Linked DNA regions of Homo sapiens: regions 1, 3 and 4 are each linked to region 2. The links come from fine-mapping of genetic effects on gene expression. A gene starts in region 2. Each other region holds a variant in brackets. All regions are shown on one strand. Distances are between the middles of the regions.

Evidence for each region. PIP is the estimated chance that this variant, and not a neighbour inherited with it, causes the effect. A credible set is the group of variants that fine-mapping cannot tell apart.
Region 1: its variant is the best candidate, but not a certain one, in a credible set for the expression of SPG21 in sun-exposed skin (GTEx, PIP 0.62).
Region 3: its variant is the best candidate, but not a certain one, in a credible set for the expression of SPG21 in monocytes (BLUEPRINT, PIP 0.85).
Region 4: its variant is the best candidate, but not a certain one, in a credible set for the expression of SPG21 in whole blood (INTERVAL, PIP 0.68).

What each region holds. Positions count from the first base shown.
Region 1 is chr15:64,965,086-64,973,458 of GRCh38, forward strand. It overlaps SPG21 (SPG21 abhydrolase domain containing, maspardin), which reads right to left. Exons shown (of 9, transcript NM_016630.7): 6 at 5,029-5,137; 7 at 4,170-4,277; 8 at 235-375. Among named protein-coding and RNA genes, the nearest start is that of SPG21, 21 kb to the right of the region's middle. The variant T/C (reference allele first, on the strand shown) is at 4,079.
Region 2 is chr15:64,986,913-64,991,912 of GRCh38, forward strand. It overlaps SPG21 (SPG21 abhydrolase domain containing, maspardin), which reads right to left and starts at 3,002. Exons shown (of 9, transcript NM_016630.7): 1 at 2,753-3,002. RefSeq lists enhancers at 2,209-2,710, 2,711-3,210, 3,266-3,335, 3,376-3,435 and silencers at 2,439-2,733, 2,536-2,585, 2,706-3,195.
Region 3 is chr15:64,954,057-64,961,549 of GRCh38, forward strand. It overlaps ANKDD1A (ankyrin repeat and death domain containing 1A), which reads left to right. Exons shown (of 15, transcript NM_182703.6): 15 at 3,047-4,635. The coding sequence ends at 3,132. Among named protein-coding and RNA genes, the nearest start is that of SPG21, 32 kb to the right of the region's middle. The variant AAAAC/A (reference allele first, on the strand shown) is at 2,497.
Region 4 is chr15:65,075,044-65,083,416 of GRCh38, forward strand. It overlaps KBTBD13 (kelch repeat and BTB domain containing 13), which reads left to right and starts at 1,703. Exons shown (of 1, transcript NM_001101362.3): 1 at 1,703-4,905. The coding sequence starts at 1,773. The coding sequence ends at 3,149. It also overlaps a transcript of RASL12 not described here. The variant TAATAA/T (reference allele first, on the strand shown) is at 3,690.

The DNA of each region.
Region 1 (8,373 bases), 20 kb before region 2:
GCCTGCTGTCCTTAGAAAAGGGATGGTGGCCAGAGAGTCACTGGGGGATCTCTAATATACCTGTTCAAATTCTCCTACAAGTTATAAATGTAAACCACTTTTATCAAGTCAATGCCTCATTTCTACAAGGAATTCTGTAGTTCACTGATTCCCTAACTAGTCCATTAAAAGAAGTCTTTATGTTGCAAACATATGTTGGGCTCAGAGTGCTCTGGGTTTCAAGCTAGGCCTTACCTGTACATAAAGATTGACCTCTGCACTTCTGCACAGGTATGGGAAATTGCCTCCTGTTTTCAGATGAGCTCTTCGGGCATTAGGATACAGCTTGTACATTTCTTCTTTAGCTTCAGTTGAAAGCGCACTCTGATCAAACACCTTTAAAAAACACAAAGCTTCAGCACCATAGGAAAGGTAAAACACACACACACATACAGAAAGCTGTAATCAACTAGTGTTTTAATATGTTCTTTTCACATTATGGAAATGTTACCCTAAGTATTCCTTTCATATGAAGACAATCCTGAACCCCCAGCAGCCTGAACTACCTCCACTGCTGATCCCTGGTGACTTATAACTCCAACCGAAGACATTAGCTACAGATTTTGCTGCACAGCATCTCCTGCATTCTTTTGGTGGGGGGAAATTCTTTTTTTTTTTTTGAGGTAGAGTGCAGTGGTGTGATCTCGGCTCACTGCAATCTCCACCTCCTGGGCTCAAGTGATTCTCCTGCCTCAGCCTCCTAAGTACCTGGGACTACAGGCATGCGCCATCACGCCTGGCTAATTTTTGCATTTTTAGTAGAGATGGGGTTTCACCATGTTGGCCAGGCTGGTCTCAAACTCCTGACCTCAGGTGATCTGCCCACCTCGGCCTCCCAAAGTGCTGGGATTACAGGCGTGAGCCACCAAGCCCGGCTGGGGTCGGGGGAAATTCTACCATGAATTTCCTTTTTCCTCAAATATAGCTAAGTAGATTAACAGAATATTAATAGAGAACAATCATTGCAAATGTCAATAAGTTTCAAAAAGATCACGAAGCCCCAAAAGAACTTTTTACTTTTATCATTAATTTAAAGCAATAAACTAAGTCATTTAGGCTCAGTGAAAAAAATTCCAAAAAAATGTAGAGTACAAGCTATTCTTTCTTGGGGAAACCAGTTTGCAGCATATGATTCTAGACATCCTTCAATACCCATACACATTTACGTTTTTACATGCAACAAAATTTTTCAAAAAGTAAAATAAGCAAAAAAAATTGTATACTAAATATACCATACCAAATCTGTATGTTTAAGTGCATCTCCAACTAAAACTTACAGGCTGTTTTCAGTGACCATGAACCCAGGCAGTGAGCACAGCTTTGAAAGAAGGGCAGGCAGAGCAAATGTCCTGTGAGGACCATTGAAAAGCTTGTTCTATGTTATGGCAAATGTCAGAATGCAGCGATTATGGCAGAGGATGATAAGAAGTTGTTTACACGCTTATAATGAATAATTTCCCAACAAAAACCAATTATTAAAAATACCATATTATGGCCAGGTGCGGTGGCTCACACCTGTAATCCCAGCACTTTGGGAGGCTGAGGCGGGCAGATCATGAGGTCAGGAGATCGAGACCATCCTGGCTAACATGGTGAAACCCTGCCTCTACTAAAAATACAAAAAATTAGCTGGGCGTGGTGGTGGGTGCCTGTAGTCCCAGCTACTTGGGAGGCTGAGGCAGGAGAATGGCGTCAACCCAGGAGGCGGAGCTTGCAGTGAGCCAAGATCGCGCCACTGCACTCCAGCCTAGGCAACTGAGTGAGACTTTGTCTCAAAAAAACAAAAACAAAAACAAAAACAAAAAACCATATTATTTGAATTTAGGAACAAATCCATTTATAAGGCAAAATAATCATATGATTTTTTTTTAAGTAAATTGAAACCATAGTGAGATACCAATTCATATCCATTAGGATAAGTATCAACCAAAAAACCAGAAATAAGGGTCCAGGATATAGAGAAACTGGAATCTTTGTGCATTGTTGGTGGGAACATGAAATGGTATAGCCACTGTGGAAGACAGTATGGTGGTACTTCAAAAAGTGTGATTCTACTTCAAACGATATGTCCAAAAGAATTAAAAGTAGGATACATCTACTATGTACCCATAAAAATAAAAAACAAAAAATTATTTTTAAAAAATAATTTAAAAATAAATAAAAAAAAATTAAAAGCAGGAACTCAAACAAATATACATATATTTTTTGACAGGTTCTCACTCTGTTGCCCAGGCTGGAACGCAGTGGCATGATCATGGCTCACCCCAGGCTCAGGTGATCCTCCCACCTCAACCTCCCAAGTAGCTGGGATCACAGGGATGTGGCACCATGTCCAGCTAATTTTCCTTTTTTTTTTTTTCTTTTTTTTGAGACGAAGTCTCACTCTATTGGCAGGCTGGAATGCAGTGGTGCGATCTCAGCTCACTGCAACCTCCACCGCCCAGATTCAAGCAATTCTCCTGCCTCAGCCTCCCGAATAGCTGGGACTACAGGTGTGTGCCACCATGCCCGGCTAATTTTTGTATTTTCAGTAGAGACGGGTTTCACCACGTTGGCCAGGATGGTCTCGATCTCTTGACCTCATGATCCACCCGCCTTGGCCTCCCAAAGTTCTGGGATTACAGGGGTGAGCCACCGCGCCCGGCCTAATTTTCTTTATTAGTAGTAGAGACAGGGTCTCCTGTATTGCCCAGACTGGTCTCGAATTCCTGGGCTCAAGCAATCCTCTTGAGTCAGCCTCCCAAAGTGCTGGGATTGCAGGAATGAGCCACTGTGCCCTGCCCAAACATATACTTTTACACCAATGTTCATAGAAGCACTATTCACAATTGCCAAAAGCTGAACACAACCCAAGTGACCACTGACGGATGAATGGATAAACAAAATGTGGTATAAACCAACATTGGTTTTATTGGTAGATATTATTCAGCTTTAAAAAGAAATAGGCTGGGCGTGGTGGCTCATGCCTGTCATAGCACTTTGGGAGGCCCAGGCAGGCAGACAGCTTGAGTCCCAGAGTTTGAGTCCAGCATGGGCAACATGGTGAAACCCCATCTCTACAAAAAATTAGCCGAACGTAGTGGTGTGAGCCTGTGGTCCAAGCTACTAAGGAGGCTGAGGAGGGAGGATTGTTTGGGCCCGGGAGGCAGAGGTTGCAGTGAGCTGAGATTGCACCACTGCACTCCAGCCTGGGGAACAGAGTGAGACCCTGTTTCCAAAAAAAAAAAAAAAAAAAGAAAGAAATGACATTCTGACACATGTATAACATTTCAAGATAAGTCTTGTGAAACATTATGCTAAGTGAAATGGCCACACAAAAGGATAAATGTTGTATGATTCTACTTATATGAGGTTCTAGAATAGGTAAATTTTTATAGACAGAAAATAAAACCGTTGATTATCAGAGGCCGGGGGAAGAAAGGGAACAGGAGTTATTGTTTAATGGGTATGCAATTTCTTCTTGGAATGATGAAAATGTTGTGAAAATGGTGATGGTTGCCGAACTGTGAATATACTTAATGCCACTGAACTATGCACTTAAAAATGGTTAAAATGGCATATTTTAAATGTACATTTTACCACAATAAAAAAATAAGCAAGCTTTTGTGGTAATTAAACTATGGAATTCTTGATTCTCTACCCTTGTTACCCTTGTGAAGCACCTTCTCTTTGCTGCCCATATATGTGCAATATATGGTGCAATATCTATTGATGAGAACAGCAAAAATACATCAAATGGGTAGACTCCCTTGTTTAAATTTATTTTGATTCATTTTTATTTTTATTTTTTTTTAATAAATACAGACAGGGTCTCACTATGTTGCCCAGGCTGGTCCTGAACTCTTGGACTCAAGCAATCCTCCTGCCTCAGCCTCCCAAAGCGCTGGGATTACAGGCATAAGCCACTGTGCTCGGCCTATTTTGATTTCAATGGTGTTATTCCTGCCAGAAAGAAATCCAAGATAAGCAATAAACAGATTATTTTGGAATTGAGAAAGCTGGAGGGTAAAAACAAAAGCCAAGGCAGCATTTGAAGAGG[T/C]ACATTGAAAGTTATCAAATAGTTTTATAGGAGATCTTGACATACACATTTTAAAAAGTAAAGCAGCTATTTTACTTAAAAGGAAGCTTACATCCATAATAGTTACAGGTATGTCCCGAATTTTATGAGGTTCCACATAAGAATTTTGACAATTCAAGGTAAGTCTTGAAGCCAGTTCACTCTGACCCAAACTTTCTAGCTGCAGGAAGAAACACAGGTAAAGTTTTTGAAATAATTTTGTTTTTCACATTTACATTAAATCCACAGACAACATTTGTGCTTATAAAGGTGGTATCATCTGTGGTGGGGCCAGAAAAGTCATCAGTGAGGAACCACAACTTAGGTGAGAGACCATGAACTGGGCTTCTCAGGAGGTTGTGGCATTTTTCTATTCTGGAAACCTGGGTACAAACCAATGAAACCCGGCCTTCTACAGCCCTCAGCCTACACTGCCTACTCCAGCCAGGTGCCCATGGGCAGCAAGCCAATTCCTACTGCTCAAAGGTGACAGATATATGTTTTTGTTTTTTTTTTTTTTTTAAGATAAACCTTTAAGGGATCTTAAAAGAGATTTGAGAAATCATCTAGCCCAGCAGTTCCTAAATGCAAGCCAACAGACCTGGTTCATCAGATTTACCTGGTGGGTAGAGGAAAAGTGTGAAGTAAAAATAGATTCCCAGATCCCATGCCCAGGGATTCCAGATGGATGATCTGCTGTGAGGCCTTACAATCTGTATTTTTGAAAGCTCCCCTAAGTGATTTTGATGAATAGCTGGTGGGAAGCACTGATGTAGGCAAGCCCTTACCAGCAATAATATCTGCTCAGATGTATTACTCTGCTTAGCAAATACCTCTTACACATACTTGTGAGACAGATCTATCTTCTGGAACCAAGTAGATGTGAAAATTCCCAATACAATGTGTCCCCAACCCAATGTCATGATCCTTACCCTGTCTACCATGAAATCAATGGCATCAGCCATCATAGGGTCCACCGGGCCAGATGAAAAATTTCCAAGAACTATTTTTTTGAGCATAAATGCAGGCATCAGCCAAAAGCTGTAAAACACAAAGACCTTATAATTTAAACTTCCAAGACTACACATGGCAAATATTCATTCAACATTAAAGCTTTGTATTAGCTTGGGATCTAGAAATAAAAAGTCCTAATCCCCTCCTCCAAAGAGCTCAGCATCTAGTTTTTACACACACTTTCCCAAGCTTCCAAAGAGTTATGGCTTCATATAATTAAACTTTTATTTGAGGATTTAGGATAATTATAAGAGATATTTCAAAATACCTTTACTGAGATAGACATTCTGATGAGTCCAAGATTGTTTTTTTTCTCTAATTGGCCCTATTTCCAAGGATTAAACTATTTCTTTTGGAAAACTGAATATTAAGAGAAGTATTCTTTCCTTCTGGTTGATATTATGTTTTTATCGATTGATATTTCAAAACAGATTTCAAAATACCAATATGAAAGCTATTGCACCTCCCCAAATTTGCTACTATTAGATTCAACTTGGCTAATTCAAGGCAAATTGATATTTATAGATTTATTTTTTAAATTTATTATTGTTATTATTTTTTGAGACAGAGTCTCAGTCAGTTACCCATGCTGGAAGTACAGTGGCATGATCTCGGCTGGGTGCAACCTCTGCCTCCCGGGCTCAAGCAATTCTCATGCCTCAGCCTTTCGAGTAGCTGCGACTACAGGCACATGCCACCACGCCCGGCTAACTTCTGTATTTTTAGTAAAGATGAGCTTTTGCAATGTTGGCCAGACTGGTGGTGAACTCCTGGCCTCAAGTGATCCACCCACCTCAGCCTCCCACAGTGCTGGGATCACAGGCGTGAGCCACTCCTGGCCTCTTTTTATTTTTTAATTAAAAAATTTAAAAAAAAACTTTTAGAGACAGGGTCTCACTCTGTTGCCCAGGCTGAAGTGCAGTATTGTGATCATAGCTCACTGTAGCCTCAAACTCCTATCAAGTGATCCTTCTACCTTGGCCTCCCGAGTAGCTGGGACTACGGGCTCGTACCACCAGGCCTGACTAATTTTTTAAAAATTTACTGAGCTGGGGGAGCCGGGGCCAGGCACGGTGGCTCATGCCTGTAATCCCAGCACTTTGGGAGGCCAAGGTGGGCAGATCACGAGGTCAGGAGATTGAGACCATCCTGGCTAACACGGTGAAACCCCGTCTCCACTAAAAATACTAAAAATTAGCCGGGCTTGGTGGCGGGCGCCTGTAGTCCCAGCTACTCGGGAGGCTGAGGCAGGAGAATGGCGTGAACCCAGGAGATGGAGCTTGCAGTGAGCCAAGATCGTGCCATGGCACTCCAGCCTGGGCGACAGAGCCAGACTCCGTCTCCAAAAAAAAAAATTTACTGAGCCAGGCGCAATGGCTCATGCCTGTAATCCAGAACTTTGGGAGGCCAAGGTGGGTGATCACAAGGTCAGGAGTTCAAGACCAGCCTGGCCAAGATGGTGAAACCCCGTCTCTACTAAAAATACAAAAATTAGCCAGGGGCGGTGGCCAGCGCCTGTAATCCCAGCTACTTGGGAGGCTGAGGCAGGAGAATCACTTGAACCTGGGGGGCAGAGGCTGCAGTGAGAACGTGCCACTGCACTCCAGCCTGGGCAACAGAGCGAGACTCCCATCTCAAAAAAGAAAATTTTTTTTCTGTAGAGACAGGATCTTGCTCTGTTGCCCAGGCTGGTCTAGAACTCCTGGACTCAAGCAATGCTCTTACCTCTGCCTCCCAAAGTGCTGGGATTACAGGTGTGAGCCACTGTGACTGGTCAGATCTTTACGGATTTCTATATATGATCTTTAGTTTATATTTATTCCATTAATTTCAACTGTTAAGAGCCATCATGGAGGGCAAACACTAATTTCTGTAAACCTATGACGAAAATTACTTAGATGAGGTGCAAACTACCTTCTGATGCTTATTACCACTGGGACAGCCTTGCTGGAAGTTGAGCTTCCCTCAAAAGGACCACTAGGTCACCTTCCAGTTAACTTTCTAAGTTCTCTCCCAGCCCCATCACTTTCTTATCTTTTGAAGGTGATGAGGTCTAAGTACGCTCTGTAAGGGGTGGACCCTGTTGACTTTGCTCACTCCTGGATCCTCAGTGTGTGGCACACAGTAAGCACTCAGATATTTGACAATAAGCAGCTGATGTGCCAGAGCACAAACTGAATGGGGGCTGTCTTGGCATTCTAACAATTAGAACAGCAATAAAAATCACCAAAAATAATGAGCATTATTTAGTGCATTATCTGGACGGGAAGGATTTGTAAAGTAGCTAATGTATACAAGAAATTGTTGCATGAATGCTGAGTAATTACTAAGATAACATCAGAAAAACTAAAAAATAGCTGGGCACAGTGGCTCATGCCTGTAATCCCAGCACTTTGGGAGGCTGAGGCGGGCGGATCACGAGGTCAGGAGATCGAGACCATACTGGTGAACACGGTGAAACCCCGTCTCTACTAAAAACATAAAAAATTAGCCAGGCATGGTGGCGGGCGCCTGTAGTCCCAGCTATTCGGGAGGCTGAGGCAGGAGAATGGCGTGAACCTGGGAGGCAGAGCTTGCAGTGAGCTGAGATCGTGCCACTGCACTCCAGCCTGGGCGACAGAGCGAGACTCCATCTCAAAAACAAACAAACAAAAAAACAAACAACAACAAAAAAAACTAAAAAATATCAGAGTGCAATTTTAAGTAGATGTGAAAACGATATTTCCCTATACATTATTTGAAAACACTGATCATACAGATGTGTTTACTCACTGGGCTTTTTTTTTGAAGTAGGGTCTTGCTCTGTCACCCAGCCTGGAGTACAGAGGCACAGTTGTGGCTCACTGCAGCCTTGAACTCTTGGGCTCAAGCGATCCTCCTGCCTCAGCCTCCTGAGTAGCTAGGACTGCAGGTGCATACCATGATACCTGGCTAATTTATTATTATTGTTATTTGTAGAGATGGGGTCTCACTATGTTGCTCAGGCTGGTTTCAAACTCTTGGCCTGAAGTGATCCTCCTGTCTTGGCCTCCCAAAGTGTTGGGAGTACGGCATGAGCCATCACACCTGGCCACTGGGCTTTATTTTAAGGCTAGAGCCTCGCCTTGCCAGCAATGAAAGAAGTGCACAGTAAGCCAGCTGTATGGCATCATAGATACCTACCAATTACTTAAAATGATAAAATCAATGAAAGGATGGCTCCTAGGAAACAAGTACCCCACTGGCTGCACCCAAAGCATTTCCACCATTTTGTTTTTGGTTTG
Region 2 (5,000 bases):
ACAATCTATTCTAAAGGAGGGAAAATAAAAACATGTTTAGCAAATAACATCTACTCAATAGATTTATAAAACACCTTAGCTAACTAAAGCCAGAAAGTGTGCTTCTAGAGTCACCAAATGGGATAAATCATTCATAGCTTTGAAATCAGTTGCAATGCACAAACCAAACCACCATACAAATACACACATACACAGGCACACATATTCACGCGGTCATCCTCTTCTTTCCCATAGCAGTAAATAGAAAGATGTTCCTTACCAACAGTCTTCAGAATAATTCACAACCACCTCAGGATGCCAACGTGTTAAAAGTAATCTTACAAGATGGAGAGATTCCACTCCGCTGTGACTAAATTTTTGTAGAGACAAGTAATTTTAACACTTGTGCTAGTTTGGCAGTACATGAAAGGTAAAATGGATACCAAATGTTGCATCTGACCAACTGACGTCTAAGTGAAAAAAAGATCACTGCTGCAAAGGGAAAACAGCTGTGAGTGGTATGAATAGGAAAGTTTGTTCTCCTAGCTCTCTTTCATCCACCAAAGGGGTATACTTTTCCAAATCATAAGAGGAATATTCTGTATATGGCAAAGGTTAACTGAGATTGTGACCAAACTGGTCAGTACTGAATAAGAAAGAATGTGGACCATGAGCTCAAAACTGATTTTATCTCTCATGATTTTGTTCTTCACAAAAACAAAAGCACCTGTTCATGCTGGTGGGAAAAGAGCCACAATATTAGCCTTAATCTTGCCTAAGGAAAGCCCTCTTCAGGGTGTGCTGTGGACTCCCTGTCTTCTCTGGCCCTTGTGCTGCTGGACAATAAAAACTGCCAGTTGTGGCTGGGTGCAGTGGCTCACGCCTATAATCCCAGCACTTTGGGAGGCTGAGGCAGGTGGATCACCTGAGGTCAGGAGTTCGAGACCAGCCTGGCCAACATGGTGCAGCCCCGTCTCTACTAAAAATACAAAATTAGCTAGGCGTGGTGGCACATGCCTGTAATCCCAGCTACGCAGGAAGCTGAGGCAGAAGAATCACTTGAACCCGGGAGGCAGAGGTTGCGGTGAGCCGAGATCACGCCATTGCACTCCAGCCTGGGCAACGAGAGCGAAACTCCATCTCAAAAAAACAAACAAAACAGCAACAACAACAAAAACAAATTAGCTGGGCGCGGTGATGGGCTCCTGTAATCCCAGCTACTTAGGAGGCTGAGGCAGGAGAATTGCTTGAACCTGGGTGGCGGAGGTTGCAGTGAGCTGAGATCACACCACTGCACTCCAGCCTGGGCGACAGAGTGAGACTCTGTCTCAAAAAACAAACAAACAAACAAACAAAAAAACCTGCCAGTTGTGACTATGCCCCTATCCCTCATGGCTTCAACAGAACCTGCCACTTTAAAGTCAACAAAATCACCTTTATCAATGTTTAAGTCACATAACCAGCATAATTAGTCAGAGGTTTCTGCTACTTTATTTCAATCTATAGTTGATGTGCATTGTGGAAAATCTGTGCTTATAAATACTAGCCATAACAAAATATTAGAAGCTGAGAGTCTCTGGGAGATGCAACTGGCTTTTTAATGCACGTCTCCATCCCTCACCACAGAAGTACACAGCTATCCTTTTCTTAGATCTCTTCAGGGGAGATCTATCCCTCTTTTCTTCATTGCATTATCTCTAAACCTTACAGGAGGAAAAGGTGCCTACCTGACATCTGTGACATCTCTTCTCATGCTCTTGGGAAAAAAGCTTTTGGAATTTGGACACAGCTATTAAGTTACTCCTCAGTGGCCAGCCGCGATGGCTCACGCCTGTAATCTCAGCCCTTTGGGAGGCCGAGGCGGGCGGATCACGAGGTCAGGAGATCGAGGCCATCCTGGCTAACACGGTGAAACCCCGTCTCTACTAAAAATACAAAAAATTAGCCGGGCGTGGTGGCGGGAGCCTGTAGTGCCAGCTACTCGGGAGGCTGAGGCAGGAGAATGGCGTAAACCCAGCAGACAGAGCTTGCAGTGAGCTGGGATGGCGCCACTGCACTCCAGCCTGGGCGACGGAGCGAGACTCCGTCTCAAAAAAAAAAAAAAAAAAAAAGTTACTCCTTAATTTGTTGAATCTTTGTGCCAAAAGGAGCTGAACCAGTGTAGGTGGAGACAAAGGAAGCAGCATAAATGTCTAACTTATAACTCCCCAGGAAAACGAGAAGAGGAAAAATGAGACACTCCGGTCCCGCTCTGTTCCTCATCCCCCGTTTACAAACCTTACACCTGGCCCACACTCAGTAACAACAAAGACATCTATCACTTTCAGGCCGAGGTCCTGTCTCCAAAATTACTGGCCTCTGCTCACAGTTCTTAAAAGTTTGCTGAGAAAAAAAAAAAGAAAGAAAGAAAGAAAGAAATGTTCCTGGGCTGCAGTCGTGTAGCCCCAGGATGGGTTTACAGGAGGATGCCCCGGTTAAGCCCTGTGCCGCCCCCACCTCCCGCTGGAGACTCACACACAGCTCCCCGCCAGTCCCACCGGTGACAGCCACACAAAGGCAGGGTCACAAGCACACCGACCACCCCACAGCCCAGATTCGGCCCCAGACACACACTCACAAGGGCACGTGATCACGTGCGTGGTCACATGGACCGGCCCACTCAGAACACACTCACAAAGTCACACCAACCAAGGCAGCCACGCGCCACACACACACACCTACAACCCCGCATACCGCACACCCAGCCGCTTCCCAGGGCTTCGCCCACCCTCACCTGCCGTGGCCGCCCCCACGTCCCTTCCCCTCCTTCAGGAGGCCGCTCTTCGCTCCAGTACGAGCGCGGGCCGTGGAGGCGGCTGGGCCCGGGTCGGGGCGGGCGGCGGAGCACTCGGGACCCACGGGCACAGCAGGCTGCGCGGTGCGTGCGGGAGGCCGGCCTCTGAGGGGGCGGGGCGCGTGGCCGAGCGAGCTTGGGCCGCCGCGCTCCCCCCGCCCGACCGCCGCTCAGCTGGCGCGAGACTCCCGCTTCCGGGTTCTCAGAGGGCGGGGCCACGTCGCGAGGAAGGGGCGGTGCTGCGTGGCCCCGGCGGTCGCCACGGCGACGGGCGCGGGGGGAGGCTCCGTGGGATGCTTGGCTGCGGCTGGCGTGAGGAGAGGGCTGAGTTACGTCTGGGTCAGCCTTAGTTCTGCCCTACGTACCTAGGAGGAGGAGGAGGTGGAGGAGGCGCCTGGCCCCTTGGGACCTGCTTCTTCTTTCAGTTCGCGTTTTCTCTGTCGTGTACAGCTTTGGAGGGACACCTTTGGGTTCCAGACTTTGATGAACACAACTTTGTATACTCTTTTCTTAGGAACATTTTTTTTCCTTTGGCACAACCGTAGACGCTCTCCGTAGTCCTCCACTCAAAGCCTCCGCTTCCTTTTTGACGTTCTGGGGATTTCTGGGAACATACGCCCACCCATCTTCCTGTTCCTTCATCACTTTTCCCTTAAAATCAGAGAGAATATTAATACATTTGTAATCATTGTTCTTAAGGTGTTGCAGACGTCACGTCTTAAGGTGTTCCAGACTTCACGACTCCTTTTTTATTAGTAAAATATTTCTGAAATTATGATAAGGTGAATAACATGTAAATCTCCTTGTTTTGAATTTTTTTTTTAGGGATCCTGCAACAAGGTCCTGTTGAAAGTGCCTCTCTCTAATATGTTTTAGGGAAAGCTTGTACCCTGTTTTAGGGCCTGTAGACTTTGCCTTTACCTAGGCAACTGTTTATGGGATTAAGGTCAGGGAAGATTCCAACTAAATTGCATCCTACTTAGTTATCACTTCTGTCCCCTGGCCCAGGAGCCTTGGGTTCCACTCTAGAACTTGGACAAATCCCAAAAGCATTTTCCAAAAGCACGGTGACATACTTACCTTTTTCTTTCTTTCTTTTTTTCTCTAAATCATTTCTTTCGGGGTTGCAACTCAGTCGCAGGAATTCATCTTTTATTGTAAGCACCACATAGATGTATAGAGCACGTTTCCGTGGAGTATTTTAAGTTGGGGGCCTTTTCTCCAACATTTGGAATCGTTTAATGGGTGGAATAACTTGCAAACTACTGGTTGTCTCTGAAACTGGTTATGGATATTCATTACATTAGTTGTCTATTTTCCCAGGTGGTCTCGAAGCTTCAATCTAGAGCAAAGGGAATAGAGTGATTCCACCAGTCCATTAGCACATGATTAGCCCATAAATAATAGGTACTAAATGTATATTGATTGTAATCCCAGCACTTTGGGAGGCCAAGGTGGACGGATCGCTTGATTGAGCCCAGGAGTTCGAGACTAGCCTGGGCAACCTGGGAGACCCTGTCTGTACAAAAAAATACAAAAATTAGCCGGGCGTGGTGGCGCATGCCTGTAATCCCCGCTACTCAGGAGGCTGAGATGGGAGAATCTGTTAAGCCCAGATGTCGAATCCACTGCACCACATCCTAGGTGACAAAGCGAGAGACCTTGTCTGCTCCCAACAAAAAACTATATTGAATGAATTAATGAGTGGAATAAATAAATCTATCCCCATTTCCACATTTGTTCCTAAAGCTGTATTCCTTAGACCCCATCCCTAGACCCCATTTAGTAACAGCTTTAATGAGACCTAATCTATGGATATACCCGTATGTTAAAAGTCATTGTTCTGTTAGTGTGGTAGTAAACTTTGACAATTGACAATAAAAAAAAATCACTATGTAGATATGTTTTGTTACATATCAACTTTTATTACAATGTAGACCAATCCAAAAATAATAAATGTTTTACTTCTTTCAGGAAGGGAAACCATGGTCATGTTTGTGTCCTCAGTTGTTCCATAACACATGGCAAGCACATTGTCCCTTTCCTAATCCCAACAAAGAACATTTAATATCTGTGAATTCCAGCTGAATTGTAATGCACAAATTCAGGCAGCAAACTTTTGATTCAGGCAGGTCCCAGTGCAGGCTGACCTGGTAGACATGGCTGTAAGGATTTGCAGCTGTTGTGG
Region 3 (7,493 bases), 32 kb before region 2:
TTCTTCTTTCTTCTTCCTCTTTTCTTCTTCTTTCTCCTCCCTCTTTTCTTCTTCCTTTCTTTTCTCCTTTCTTCTTCCTCTTTCTTCTTGTTCCTTATTATTCTTTCTTCTTTCTTTTCTTCTTCTTCTCCTTCTTTCTTGTTCCTTATTCTTTTCTTCTTCTTCTTCTTCCTCTCCTTCGTCTTCTTAGTTCTTTCTTCTTCTCCTTCTTTTCCTTTCTTCTTCCTTCTTAGTTCTCCTTTTCTTCTCCTTCTCTTCCTTCTTAGTTCTTCCTTCTTCTTCCTCCTCTCCTTCTTCTCTTCTTCTCCTTCTTCTTCCTTTTCTTTTCTTCTTCTTTCTTCTTCCTTCCTCTTCTTCCTCCTCTCCTCCTTCGTTCGTCGTCTTCTCCTTCTTCTTCTTCCCTCTTCTCCTTCTTCCTCTTTTTCTTCTTCCTTCTCCTTCTTCTTCCTTCTTCTCCTCTTTCTTCTCCTTCTTCCTCCTTCTCCTTCTTCTTTTCTTCTTCCTTCTCCTTGTTCTCCTTCTTCCTTATTCTTCCTTCTTCTCCTTCTTCCTCCTCCTTCCTCTTTTCTTCTTCCTTTTCTTCTTCCTTCTTCTTCTCCTTCTTTCTTCTTGTCTCTTCTTCTTCTCTCCTTCTCCTTGTTCTTCTCCTTCTTCTTCTCCTTCTCCTCCTCCTTCTTCTTCCTTCTCCTTCTTCTTTCTTTTTGTTCTTCTTTCTTCTTCTCCTTCTTCCTTCTCCTTAGTTGTTCTTCTTCCTTGTTCTTCTCCTTCTTTTTGTTGTTCTTTCTTCTTCCTTCTTCTTCTTTCTTCTCCTTTTCTTCTTCCTTCTCCTCCTCCTTCTTCCTTCTTCTCTTGTCTCTTCTCTCTCCTTCTTCTCCTTCTTCTTGTCTCTTCTTCTCTCTCCTTCTTCTTCTCCTTGTTCTTCTCCTGCTTCTCCTCTTCCTCTTTCCTTCTTCTTCCACTTCTTCTTCTTCCTCTTCTTCTTCTTTCTTTCTTTCTTCTTCTTTTCTCTTTTTTTTGATATGGAGTCTTACTCTGTTGCCAGGCTGGAGTGCAGTGGCGCAATCTTGGCTCACTGCAACCTCCACCTCCCAGGTTCACGCCATTCTCCTGCCTCAGCCTCCTGAGTAGCTGGGACTACAGGTGCCTGCCACCACACCCAGCTAATGTTTTGTATTTTCAGTAGAGACGGGGTTTCACTGTGTTAGCCAGGATGGTCTTGATCTCCTGACCTCGTGATCTTCCCCAGGGATGGGGTGTTCCATCTTCTGCCCTGTCCGGCAGAGTAGCTGCTTGCCACCTGAGGCTGTCATGCACCTGAAATGTTGGCTAGAGGGACTGAGAAGCTGAAATTTCTTATTTCTCATTATTTGAAATTGCAGGCACCCATAGCAAGTGGCATCCATGGTGCTTGGCTTTGAGGTGCCAGGCAAGCACAGCTTGTTCTGGGGCTTGGCTGTACCAGCAGGGGGATGTGTTTCTGGGGAATTGTGGCTCTGGAAGCTTCACGGTTTCCCAGAATGTGGAAAATATATCTGTGCAGGATAGAAATCCTGCCCAGAGGCTGTTTCTGTCTCATTTGAGCTCTCCTTCATGTGGCAGAGCTGGCTGTGGCGTTTAGGAGCCTACATTTTAGAAAAGCTTACCTCAAAGTTCTGCATTGAGCCTGAGACTGGAAAGGAGATAAAATAAAACAGCTGACAGGAGCTTTGGTAGTCACACATGCCTGATGGGGTGCACAGGGCCACAGTCTCTGAAAGGCAATTTGGCATTGTCTGTCCACAATATACTTTTATCCATTGGTCCAGCAATCCTACTCTAGGAATTTTTCCTACATATAAACCTGTATGCATACAAAATGATAGACATACAAGGTTATTACTCTGAAAAAGCAAAAGATTGGAAACAAACCAAGTGACTGGCTACAGGGGACTGGTGAAATAGAGTATGTTCCATCCACACAGTGGAATTCTGTTCAGCAGTGAAAAAAGGATGAGAGTGCTTTCCAAGTGTTGTTATGGAAAGAGCTCCAGGATAAATTAAGTGGAAAAAAACCCCAAGATACAGGTACATTAAACCGAAGGAAATTGGTTCAGAGGATAGCTGCACCATTTTTAGAGAAAAAGCTTCCTTTCTCTCTTCACCTTTTGCAGGTGATGTATTTTTTTCTTTGGATTCCTTTTTTTTTTCTTTTTTTTTGAAACAGTTTAGCTTGGCCGGGCGCAGTGGCTCATGCCTGTAATCCCAGCACTTTGGGAGGGCAAGGCGGGCAGATCACGAGGTCAGGAGATCGAGACCATCCTGGCTAACACAGTGAAACCCTGTCTCTACTAAAAATACAAAAAATTAGCCAGGCATGGTGGCGGGCACCTGTAGTCAGTCGCAGCTACCTGGGAGGCTGAGGTAGGAGAATGGCATGAACCCGGGAGACAGAGCTTGCAGTGAGCCGAGACTGTGCCACTGCACTCCAGCCTGGGCGACAGAGCAAGACTCTGTCTC[AAAAC/A]AAACAAACAAAAAAAGAGACAGAGTTTCACGCTTGTTGCCCTGTCTGGAATGCAGTGGTGTGATCTTGGCTCACTGCAACCTCCGTCTCTTGGGTTCAAGCAATTCTCCTGCCTCAGTCTCCGGAGTAGCTGGGATTACAAGCACACACCATCATGCCCGGCTAATTTTTGTATTTTTAGTAGACAGGTTTCACCATGTTGGTGAGGCTGGTCTTGAACTCCTGACCTAAGGTGACCCATCCACCTCAGCCTCCCAAAGTGCTGGGACTACAGGCATGAGCCACGGAGCCCAGCCATTTTTGGATTCTTAAAACTTAAGAAAAATTCTAAAACATATTTGTGATCTATTACGTTATGATATATGATAGGGAAAAAATAGACAACTTTACCTACCACTAAGTTATATTTAATCAGCATTCTTTTGTTTCCTAACATATATGTTGCGAGCTAAATGTATGCTCTTACTCTAAATCTTTCTGAGCTACACTTTAAGGGTGATAATTGTTTTGTTTTGTTTTTTGAGACAGTCTTGCTCTCTCACCCAGGCTGGAGTACAATGGCGAGATCTCAGCTCACGGCAACCTCCGCCTCCCGGGTTCAAATGATTCTTGTGCCTCAGCCTCCCGAGTAGCTGGGATTACAGGTGCATGCCATCACAGCTGGCTAATTTTTGTATTTTTAGTAGAGATGGGGTTTGGCCATGATGGCCAGGCTGGAAAATTGAAACATAATTTCACAATTATTCCTTTTTCCACCTTAAATAATAAGAGTAGAATACTTTCTGTGTTTTTATCTTATACACATGAATAAATGCTATGGCTTATCACAGTTACAATGTGTTTTCTGAAAGTAAAGATTATTTTACCTTGAAATTACAAAAATTATTTTCAGTTTTCCAAAATTCTATCTTTAAACCTAAATAATTCAATTTCATGGATGCACAAATGTTTATTGAGAGTCTCATATTCATGCTTTTCTTCACAGCACTATAAAGTTGGACTTGGAAAATTTGGACAGCCATTTGCCATTGTAATTTTTATTCTTTTTTCTCCTGATTATTTGACAAAACTTGTATCCACATTGTAGCTGTTCATGTGTCTGCTTCTATTGCATATTGTAAAATTATTAACTACTTCCCAAAATAGTATTTCTCTCAGCAGATATTTCTTTGGTACTACCATGTATTGTGTAACTTTTGGGAAAGTAAGGTGGCTTCCCTGCTCTCAGTGAAGCATTTTATTAAAAGAATAATTATAATTAAAAAAACACGATACAGATCAGTGCATATAGTATATTACTAATAGTATGCTGTTAATTGTGTAAGAAAGAAAGGAAATTAGAAAACATATTTGCATAAATAAAAGCTAGACAAAGGCTAAGAAACTAATCAGGTGGTTTCCCTGGGGTAGTAGGATAATGGGGAACAGTGGGGCTGGGACCGGGTGGGAGAAAGAGTTCTCAGTGGTTCCTTTCTATACAGTTTTAACTTTTGAAATGTGTGAGAGTGTTACTTACTGAAAACTGAAAGGATATGACATGCTGGAACAGGCAAAACTACAAAGACAGTAAAAAGATCAGTGATTTCCAGGAGCTGCAAGGGCAGTGAGAGGAAGGGAGGGATGAGGAGGTGGAGCGCAGGGGATGTTAGGGCAGTGAAAGGTTCTGTATGACACTGTGATGGTGGGTACATGACATTGGGCATTGGTCAAAACCCATAGCATGTACAGCACAAAGCGTTTGCTCTAATGTGAGCTATGGACTTTAGTTAATAGTAACGTGTCAATATTGGTTCATCAGTTGTATCAAATGTACCACACTGATGCCAGATGTTAATAATCGGGGAAACTGTGTGTGCTGAAGAGTACGTGGGAGCTCTCTGTGCTATCTGCTCAATTTTTCTCTAAACCTAAAACTGTTCTAAAATAGAAAGTCTGTGAAAAAAAACAAAAGTAAAGTTATAAAAGGAAAAGAAAACAGAGGCTTTAAATTAAATCATCTATTCCTTGGGAAAGGTATTTTGTACCATATGGGACTGAAATCATTTATCTGGATGAATTTTATAAAATGAATTTTGTAATTTTTTTCTGAGAAAAAAAAGTTCTTAAATACAATAAAATTGAAATGTTGAAATATATCTCTCAAATCCAGTACTCATATCTTTTCTTTGGGAAATACAGGGTGAAATTCCAGGTCAGACAAGCTGTCACAGATTGGTGCTATGTAAGCACAATGGCTCAACTCACGGACAGTGAATACTTCCTGAGTGGATTTTGTGCCAGGTGGCCTGCCAGGAGTGGGTACAGAGATGAGAGCCCACAGTTCCCTCCCCTTCCCCAAGCTTAGGGTCTAGTAGGGGAGAAAGGCTTGCACACCAATAACTGTAATAAGGTGCAGTCCACGCTGTAATGGATGGGTGCAAACAACTATGGGACTCCTTCCTGGGGGAAGGAAGAAAGGAAGGGGAGGAAGCAGCTCACAGAGGAGACAGAAGTGGGGAAAAGGGCAGTCCAAGCCAACAGCACAGCCTAAGCAATAGCCCAGAGGTGTGGAGAGGGACCCCCCACCTTGGGGAGTAGCGTGGCTGGAGCACAGGATGCGTGGAAGGAGGGGGAGCTGTGACCTGAGGGGCAGGAGGGGGAGGGGTGCAGATGCATTGGAAATTGTTCCCCACCCCATCACCAAAAATTAGATGTCTCATAAAGTAGAAACTGAACAGAATAGACTCCGCCTTTGGAAATGCACATCTGCTTGTCCTTTCAGAGTCTACTTTACCTTGCTAATTGTGACTCTCCTTGTTTCTAAAATGTATATTTAAATCACTTTTCCAATGGATATTTACTTACAGTTACTCCCTCCCTTTTCTTTGAGACGGAGTCTTCCTCTGTTGCCAGGCTGGCGTGCAGTGGTGCGATCTCGGCTTACTGCAGCCTCCGACTCCCTGGTTCAAGCGATTCTCCTCTTCAGCCTCCCAAGTAGATGGAATTACAGGCACATGCCACCACGCCCAGCTAATTTTTTTTTGTATTTTTAGTAGCGATGGGGTTTCAACATGTTGGCCAGGATGGTCTTGATCTCCTGACCTCGTGATCTGCCTGGGTTGGCCTTCCAAAGTGCTGGGATTGCAGGCGTGAGCCACTGTGCCTGGCCCCTTTTTAAGATATATACTGTACTTAAAACTATTCACATATAGTCTGCAGGTTTATATACTTAAAAAGTGCGAAGTCTTTCTCCTGTGGATCCCAAGATAACTTCTAGAAGCGGGTACAGGCCCTGGATCACATCATGTATCAAAATGAACCCATAAAACTCCCAGGTTAAGAACTGAGGTGAAGGAGTCCCTGGCTCTTAGTGGAGGTTGCTCCCCGCATCTCTTCCTGTGTGCAGAGCTTCACTAAATGGTTACAGCCCCACTTCAGAGTTTCTGAAACTAGTCTGATTTCCACAACAGAGGTCCCTTAGTGTTCATGCACTGGCAAGTGACAAGATCAGACCTGTGTGTGGACCACACAGAGGATGGGTGGGGGTGGGAGGAGATGGCTGGTGGAGCCAGTGAGGACTGTAGTAGTCTGGGCAAAAGATGCCAAGGCCTAACTTGTAGTGAGGAAGGCTCAAGTTTGCAGGCAAGTTGCTAGATCTCTGAGAGTCAGGGGATATAGGTGTAGTAGATGTGGAAATGCATTGCCCGGACCCCCTTCTTCCAGGAAGGCCTTTCCATCCAGCTGCAGGAGTGAGCTGGGCAGATGGCCTCCAGCTGTCAGCCCTTCAGGGTCTGCCTCAGCTGCAGAGAGTTGCCCCACCCAACACCCTGCCCTCCCCAGGGCAGCTGCCTCTGGGAACTGAGCTACGCGGGAGCATAGAGACCCAGCCATTTTAGTCCTCCATGAAAATATTCCAGTGGGTGCTTCAAGCTCCTGCGTGCCCTACTGAGTTGGTGGGTACTTGATCGGGCCTGCATCACAGTTCAATTTCGCTCTCTGCCCAATCCATCTTCCCTTCACAGATGTTGTTTTTTTGTTTTGTTTTGGAGATTGAGTCTCACTCTGTTGCTCAGGCTGGAGTGCAGTGACACCATCTCAGCTCACCGTAACCTCTGCCACTCTGGTTCAAGTGATTGTCCTGCTTCAGCCTCCTGAGTAGCTGGGATTACAGGCACGTGCCGCCAGGTCTGGCTAATTTTTTTGTATTTTTAGTAGAGACTGGGTTTCTCCATGTTGGCCTGGCTGGTCTTGAACTCCTGACCTCAGGTGATCCACTCCCCTTGGCCTCCCAAAGTACTGGGATTACAGGTGTGAGCCACCACACCAGGCCACAGATGTTGATCCTTAATAAACATCTTGCACCCAAATTTTCATCTCTGCATCCGCTTCAGCCTGAGACATGGGGGTGGAGGAGTGAGTGGGGGTGGAGGGTCCAAGATGGCTGAGTTTCTAACTGGGGATTCCAAGAAATAGTGATGCCAGGACCTAAGAAAATGGGGCTAGAAGAGGAAGGGCAGGTTTGGGCAGTGGGGCCATGGGCATAGCTTTTGACTGGTTGCCTGTCGAAGGCTGAGATGCCTGTTGAAGGCTGGCCTAATAGGCCTGAGTACGCATTCAAGGCCAGTACTCAAAATTGATCAGGGCTGGCAATGACAACTTGCAGTCATCAGGGGGCAGAGCTGGGGAGTAGTTAAAGTTGTTAGACGGCTCTAGTAGCCTCAGACGCTACTAGTTAAAATGTCAAGCTTCGCCCTTATGGTTTACCAAGTGTTTCCATAACTCATGACTGTTGTCAAGCCACAGATAGAGAAGACAATGTGGCCCCTTTGTGGAAAGATCACTGGCTTTAGGGATGGTCAGATTCAAGGTGGCATCCCAGCTCCACCCCTTACTGCCTGACCCAGTCTCCAGGTCCTCACCTGTAAAGTCAGGATAATCAGGGCTGTATTGGGGATGAAGTCTAAGAAGGTATGGCCAACCCAATATTCTGAAACCTGGCACATAAAGGGAAAGA
Region 4 (8,373 bases), 90 kb after region 2:
CGGGGCTGCGTGTGGCGCTTGCGGGCCAGCTGGAGTTCCAGGTGGGCGTGGGCTTGGCGGGCCCCGCACTCGGAGCAGTCAGCCAGCCCTGCTGGCCCCGGGCAATGAGGGACTTTGCACCCGGGCCAGTGGCTGCGGAGGGTGTACTGGGTCCCCCAGCAATGCCAGCCCACCGGCGCTGTGCTTGATTTCTCACCGGGCCTTAGCTGCCTTCCCGCAGGGCAGGGCTCAGGACCTGCAGCCCGCCATGCCTGAGCCTCCCATCCACTCCATGGGCTCCTGTGCGGCCCGAGCCTCCCCGACGAGCACTACCCCCTGCTCCACGGTGCCCAGTCCCATCAACCACCCAAGGGCTGAGGAATGCGAGCGCATGGTGCAGGACTGGCAGGCAACTCCACCTGCAGCCCTGGTGCAGGATCCACTAGGTGAAGCCAGCTGGGCTCCTGAGTCTGGTGGGGACGTGGAGAGTCTTTATGTCTAGCTCAGGGATTGTGAATACACCAATCGGCACTCTGTATCTAGCTCAAGGTTTGTAAACACACTAATCAGCACCCTGTGTCTAGCTCAGGGTTTGTGAGTGCACCAATTGACACTCTGTATCTAGCTGCTCTGGTGGGGCCCTGGAGAACCTTTATGTCTAGCTCAGGGATTGTAAATACACCAATTGGCACTCTGTATCTAGCTCAAGGTTTGTAAACACACCAATCAGCACCCTGTGTCTAGCTCAGGGTTTGTGAGTGCACCAATCAACACTCTGTATCTAGCTGCTCTGGTGGGGCCTTGGAAAACCTTTATGTCTAGCTCAGGGATTGTAAATACACCAATCGGCACTCTGTATCTAGCTCAAGGTTTGTAAACACACCAATCAGCACCCTGAGTTTAGTTCAAGGTTTGTGAGTGCACCAGTCGACACTCTGTATCTAGCTGCTCTGGTGGGGCCTTGGAGAACCTGTATGTGGAAACTCTGTATCTAACTAATCTGATGGGGACGTGGAGAACTTTTGTATCTAGCTCAGGGATTGTAAACCCACCAATCAGCGCCCTGTCAAAACAGGCCACTTGGCTCTACCAATCAGCAGGATGTGAGTGGGGCCAGATAAGAGAATAAACGCAGGCTACCCGAGCCAGCAGTGGCAACCCGCTCATATCCCCTTCCACACTGTGGACGCTTTATTCTTTTCCTCTTTGCAATAAATCTTGCTGCTGCTCACTCTTTTGGGTCCACACTGCTTTTATGAGCTGTAACACTCACCGTGAAAGTCTGCAGCTTCACTCCTGAGGCCAGCGAGACCACAAGCCCACTGGGAGGAACGAACAACTCCAGACACGCTGCCTTAAGAGCTGTAACACTCACAGCGAAGGTCTGCAGCTTCACTCCTGAGCCAGCGAGACCATGAACCCACCAGAAGGAAGAAACTCCAAACACATCTGAACATCAGAAAGGACAGACTCCAGACACGCTACCTTAAGAGCTGTAACACTCACCTCGAGGGTCCGCGGCTTCATTCTTGAAGTCAGACCAAGAACCCACCAATTCTGGACCCATTATTACCATTTCTTCTAAGGATATGAGTGATCACACAGGTCTCCAGATGCCCTCCGGGCCTGCAGCCATACAGCCTGCGGGCCACCACATCACATGAGCCATACTATCTTTAGCCAGGGAGAGATATTTATAGCCCCCAGGGAAGTTTTTTGCTCCAGGGGAGCCCCAGAGTTGGTGGCTGGCTAACCCAAGGCCCCAGCGGCAGCCTCCGCCCGGCCAGCTCGCCATGGCACGGGGTCCACAGACCCTGGTGCAGGTGTGGGTGGGCGGCCAGCTCTTCCAAGCCGACCGCGCCCTGCTGGTGGAGCACTGTGGCTTCTTCCGAGGCCTCTTCCGCTCCGGCATGCGGGAGACCCGCGCAGCAGAGGTGCGCCTGGGCGTTCTGAGCGCGGGAGGTTTCCGCGCCACGCTGCAGGTGCTGCGCGGCGACCGGCCGGCGCTGGCGGCGGAGGACGAGCTGCTGCAGGCCGTGGAGTGCGCCGCCTTCCTCCAGGCGCCGGCGCTGGCTCGCTTTCTGGAGCACAACCTCACGTCGGACAACTGCGCATTGCTGTGCGACGCGGCCGCCGCCTTCGGCCTGCGCGACGTGTTCCACAGTGCCGCGCTCTTCATCTGCGACGGCGAGCGCGAGCTGGCGGCCGAACTGGCGCTGCCTGAGGCCCGCGCCTACGTGGCGGCCCTGCGGCCCAGCAGCTACGCGGCCGTGAGCACGCACACGCCCGCGCCCGGCTTCCTGGAGGACGCCTCGCGCACGCTGTGTTACCTGGACGAGGAAGAGGACGCGTGGCGCACGCTGGCTGCGCTGCCCCTGGAGGCCAGCACGTTGCTGGCCGGGGTGGCCACGCTGGGCAACAAGCTTTACATCGTGGGGGGCGTGCGCGGCGCCAGCAAGGAGGTGGTAGAGCTGGGCTTCTGCTACGACCCCGACGGCGGCACGTGGCACGAGTTCCCCAGCCCGCACCAGCCGCGCTATGACACAGCGCTGGCCGGCTTCGACGGCCGCCTCTACGCCATCGGCGGCGAATTCCAGAGGACGCCCATCAGCTCCGTGGAGCGCTACGACCCAGCCGCGGGCTGCTGGAGTTTCGTGGCCGACCTGCCGCAGCCGGCCGCCGGCGTGCCCTGCGCCCAGGCTTGTGGCCGTCTCTTCGTGTGCCTGTGGCGGCCGGCCGACACCACCGCCGTGGTGGAGTACGCAGTGCGGACCGACGCGTGGCTGCCAGTGGCCGAGCTGCGGCGTCCGCAGAGCTATGGCCACTGCATGGTGGCCCACCGCGACAGCCTCTATGTGGTGCGCAACGGACCTTCCGACGACTTCCTGCACTGCGCCATCGACTGTCTCAACCTGGCCACGGGCCAGTGGACGGCGCTGCCCGGCCAGTTCGTCAACAGCAAGGGAGCGCTCTTCACGGCCGTGGTGCGCGGTGACACCGTCTATACGGTCAACCGCATGTTCACGCTGCTCTACGCCATCGAGGGCGGCACCTGGCGGCTGCTCAGGGAGAAAGCCGGCTTCCCGCGGCCCGGCTCCTTGCAGACCTTTCTCCTAAGGCTGCCTCCTGGCGCTCCTGGGCCTGTGACTTCGACAACGGCAGAACTGTGACCTCTGGGCTGGCTTTAGGAGGGAGGAGACGCCGCGACTCCTCCCTGAGCTATGGCTGAGTGTGTGAGGCCGGCCTTAGAAGTAGCTGGCAACTTCCCTCTTTCTACTGAGACACCCAGGTTTGGTGCCTTCTGGTGGTGTGGACATGTTCAAGAAGCTCAGGGAGCAGTGATGATGCCCTCAAATTACTTGGGCTCTGCTGAGAGCTGGTGGGTCACAATGTCAGTGAACAGGGTAGGGGGAGTTGGGATTTGAATAATCCGGGCTTATATGTAATGGGCTAGTGATTGAGCATCGCTGGGAGCGACTTAAATGATGTTAATCAAACTGCAAGTAGTAGGCAAGAATTAGGCACCTACTGTATGCCCAATACAGTGTTATGCGTAATGAGAGCCGTAGTTGCCACACAGGGATCCAGGAAGCTTAAAGGATAACCCAGAAAACAATCTTAACAGTTACAGGACAACAAAAAGGTTTACACACAACTTGATCCACAGAGTTGAAGGCAACATGCAAAAAAATTTAAAACCGCATACAATA[TAATAA/T]AATAAAGTGCTGAAGAAATCAGGGCAAAGGGAAAATAGGAAGAGAAAAAATATATAACTCCAGAAAAGAAGAGAGTGTGCAAACTCTATGGAGGAGATGAGCAGGATACCATTAGCTGCTGAAAGGGGAGGCTTAGACCATGGAGGCTGAGAGCTCAGAAGAGAAGCAGGGTTGGGGAAGGCTGGAGCAGATGGGGAGGGTCTCTGCAAGTCCAGCCATACCAGCAGAGCAGCAGTAGTTGGGGCATCTAGAGAGGGGATGAGACTGGGCCAGCTTGCAGCAGATAATGACTGAGCTGAGCCTGGAGTGAGACCTGTGGGGGCGAGAGGATTCTTCACGTTCCTTTTTGGAACCCTTAGGGGAGCACCCAGGTGTAAGCCCTTGCCCACCCTGTTTTTGCCATCACCACGGGGCAGTGGACTGTTAACCCACATGACTTCAGGTCAGTTGAGGTATGAGCCAAATCCTGCCTCATCTTCCTCAGTTGTAGCCCCTCCTCCACATTCTACAGGTTTGTTCTCTTCCTGTCCTATTCTGCCCTTTGCAATTCCCTGGGCTGGAATGCCTAGTCTCCTCCTCTCTCCCTGTCAGTGCTCTACCATCCTCTGTGCAGCATTGGCTCACCCAGCTCTTCGTTTTCCTGACCTGGGCTGCCTGCATTGCTCATTGGACCCCTGGCTGTAACATCATTGTGTGTGCACAACCACGTGTGTGGATTGTAAGGGCAGAGATCCTGTTAAGTGAGCTGGGGGACTTCCCTGTCCCAGATTAAAATGATGATGCCTTGAAAGAACCCAGGCTACAGAGGCCACTAGTTAGGAACCTAGTGCTGACCTCTGTTGTTGGATGAGGACTCTCGTTCCTTCATCAAAATCCCCAGCTCTGGCTTCTGGGCAGATGCCTGTCCCAGCCCTTTCCAGCCTCTCCATGGCCTTGGGAAGACTTCTCTGGGTGGTTCTCATTGGTCTCCATCCCCCAGGACCTGAGGCCCATGGGGAATCTTGGCCTCGTCAGAAGTGGAGAATGCAGTGTCAGCATGACACCTCCGGGGCATGGAGGCTCGCGCCAGGGCTGCACCTAGCTGCCTCTTCTCCTGGCCTATGTCCCAACCCTGGAGAATGCTGCCCTCAGAAGCCTGGGACCTTCCAGCCCTGGAGTAGCCTAGTCTGATAAGTCTCAACAATAAACCCTGACTTTTGCATCTTGTGAATTATGTGCAAGGTACTTTCACATCTGACTTCCCCCTCCCGACCTACCTTGGGCCTGGGAGTTGGGTACCCTCTTCTTGTGGCAGAAACTGACCCACTGGCCCAAAGCCACACAGCATAGCAACAAGAGTTCCTCACTTGTAGTTCTATCAAAGTGTAATTCATTCATTCTTTTTTTTTTTTCTTTTTGACACAGGGTCTTGCTTTGTCAGTCTGGAGTACAGTGGTAAAATCATGGCTTACTGCAGCCTTAACCTCCTGGGCTCAGGTGATCCTCCTACCTTAGCCTCCCCAGTAGCTGGGACTACAGGTGCACACCACCACACCTAGCTAATTTTTATAATTTTTTTTTTGAGACAGAGTTTTGCTGTAGTTGCCCAGGCTGGGGTGCAATGGTGTGATCTCAGCTCACCCCAACCTCCACCTCCCAGGTTCAAGTGATTCTCCTGCCTCAGCCTTCCCAAGTAGCTGGGATTATAGGCATGCGCCACCAAGCCTGGCTAATTTTGTATTTTTAGTAGAGATGGGGTTTCTCCATGTGGGTCAGGGTGGTCTTGAACTCCTGACCTCAGGTGATCCGCCCACCTCGGCCTCCCAAAGTGCTGGGATTACAGGTGTGAGCCACCACGCCCGGCCAATTTTTATACAATTTTTTTGTAGAGGTGGAGTCTCACTGTGTTGCCCAGGTTGGCCTTGAACTCCTGGGCTCAAGCAATCCTCCTGCTTGGCTTCCGAAAGTTCTGGGATTACAGGCATGAGCCACTGTACCTGGCCTCAAAGTGTAATTCATATCACACATCAAAGATTTATTTAACTCACCTGTAAGAGAACCAAAAAGAATGGCAAAGCTGATTGAAAAGAGCATTTGAGAGACAGATTTGTATATTTAGTTGGAAGAGACATACTAAAATAAGTTTGCTAAGTTAGAGACAAAACTGGCATATGCCTTACAGGACAAAAGCATAATTTTTTTGGTTCTCTACTGAACAAAAATCCTTTGCATCTTTACATACATGCATGTACATATTTGTGCATATGCCTACAAGTTAGCATGTAACTTCACAAAGTCTGGGCTCTAATCTATAGTAAATTGTAAGGCAAAGGTACATTCCCCTTGAAAATTAAATAACTCTTCTCTGTTCAAAGTGTCCCAAAGTGACATTGAAAGGAAATAATCCTTCTTTTGCCTTACTTCCAAGTTACAGATAACTTTCATAACAGTACAGAGCATTTTCCTCCTTCCTCCTGACCAGTGCTGAACACCTGAGACTTGCCACATGATAATCCATCAGCTCCTAGTCTCTCTTATCCCACAGCATTGTCTGCACTTGGGGCTGCTTAGCCCCAGCCTGCTGGCTCCTGGCATTTGGTTGTTCCTCCCTTCATCCAGGGCAGCCCTTTCTGAGATGCCTTTTGTGCGTAATAATAACACAGTGTTCACAGAGAGCTTTCCCACAGTTGACTTACTTGAGCTTTTGAGAATTTTAAGTGGCAGATAGTTTGGCAACACCCCTACTCCCGCAGCTTAATGGAGGGAAAAAAGCTCAACGGTCATGTGATTAGAAGAGGCTCGTTAGGTAGTGGCAGAACCTGGCTGTGAACCCAGGGCCACAGGCTTGTCTTCTGTGCTACATGCCTGCTTGGCCGACATCCTGAGATGGACAGGGTGTTTCCAATGGTCTCCTTAACACTCCCTCCGTTTTGCCTTTCTCTATGTATCCCCACCTCTTTTGGGGGTTCGTTTGTTCCCTTGGACTCAGCCCTTTCTCTTCCCTCTTCCATAGGAAAGTTAACTAGTTCTCTTCCCTTAGGATAGACCTGGGAGACCAGTAGCCCCGTTCAGCCCAGGTAATGACTGGTTTAGGCCCTGGGGGATATTTGCACGTTCACTGATACTTCCCTCGTCTCAGGAAGTGTGGGGAAGCTTTGTAACCCAGCCCACCTTCTCTGTCTAAGGGTTCTCACAGTTAAGGCTTTGTTCCACCCACAGTCAGCATGTGTCACCACTGCCCACCACCCTCAGCAGGGATGGTGACTGTGCCTGGGGTGCCTGTGAGGAAACCAGCAGAAAGCCAGAATGGCTGGCTCACCCAGAGTCACACAGGCAGTTAAGTGGAAGAGCAGGGACTTGAACTCAGGACTTGGGATTCTCAGCCTCTCATTCCCCGGCATCTCGGCTTGACTATTGCATGAAGGTGTGGGGGGCACAAACCAGGTGCAGCTGGGCAAATTACAGAAACACTTAGGAGTTACTGAGCTCAGAGGGCTGGATTTGAAATCTCTCTGTCCCAGCCCAGAGGTTTACTCTGAGAAGTCCGTCCTTTCTGAGAGGCCTACACTCACACAGCTTAAAGCTGCAGGGATCATTTTCCTGAACCTGGTGGCAGCCCTGCAGCCCAACTCTCTGGAGTTCTCTCCAGTCTTCCACAAACGTTCTCCTTGCCCCTGACTCCAGATGTCCTGCACCCCAAGCCTTCCTCTCCCTGAAATCATCCTATGTGGTTTATATAGCCCGCCTGGCAGAGGCAGAGAAGCTGCCCCACCCCTGTCCACCAAGGACCTGCTTCCTTGCTGGCTTCCCTTCAGTGTGCTCACAGGGCAGCCAGAGCCATCCTAGTTCAACAAAATGCCAGTCAGAGCCTGGTGCGCCCCCTCTGAAAGGCAAAGTCCTTTCAGACTCTCCCACCCTGTTTCCTCCCTGACTTCATCTCCTCCCACTCCTCTCTGGCCTCATTGCTCCTCAGACGCACCAGGCACACTCCGGGCTCAGGGTGTGTGGCTGGTGTCCCTCTGCCTGCGCACTGCCTCAGCCCCACCCCACTTCCTGCAGGTCTTGGCTCAGATGTCACTTCGATCCTACAGACTCTCCTAACCTCCCTACTTAAAATCTACCTCCCCCTTCTCTACATGTTCTCCTCCCTTTTCCTGTTTTATTTTTCTGCATAGCTTTTAGCATCATCTTCCATGCTATCTTTTCACTTGTTTGCTGTTGGTTTTCTCCTACTAAAATTTGAGCTCCACGAAGGCAGAGGGTTTTTTCTGTTTTGTTCACTGCTCTCTCATCAGGACCCAGAAAAATGACTAGAACGTAGTAGGCAGCTTAAGAGATGATTTATTTAGTAGGGACTTAAGAAATATTTGTTGAATGAATGAATGGCACTCAACGGATGTTTGTTGAAAGAATGCATTAATGAATTGATCAGTCAATCAAGGAAACTCCATAGGAAAGGTACAGAGAAAGGCTCTCAGATTTCAGAGGACAGGAGTATCATTTCTGGCAGGGCTGTGGCAGGTGGCCAGGGAAGACTTTTCTGTGGAGGTGACGAGCTGTCAAGTTTGCAGTCCACCTTGGGAAGAGTGGGATCTGAAAAGAGCAGCCGCTCACCGGTCACTTTTCTTTCAAGGGAAGGGAGGAAGCTGGGATTAGAAATGCTAATCATCCCTTGAAGAATGGCTCCTCTTGGCGGCGG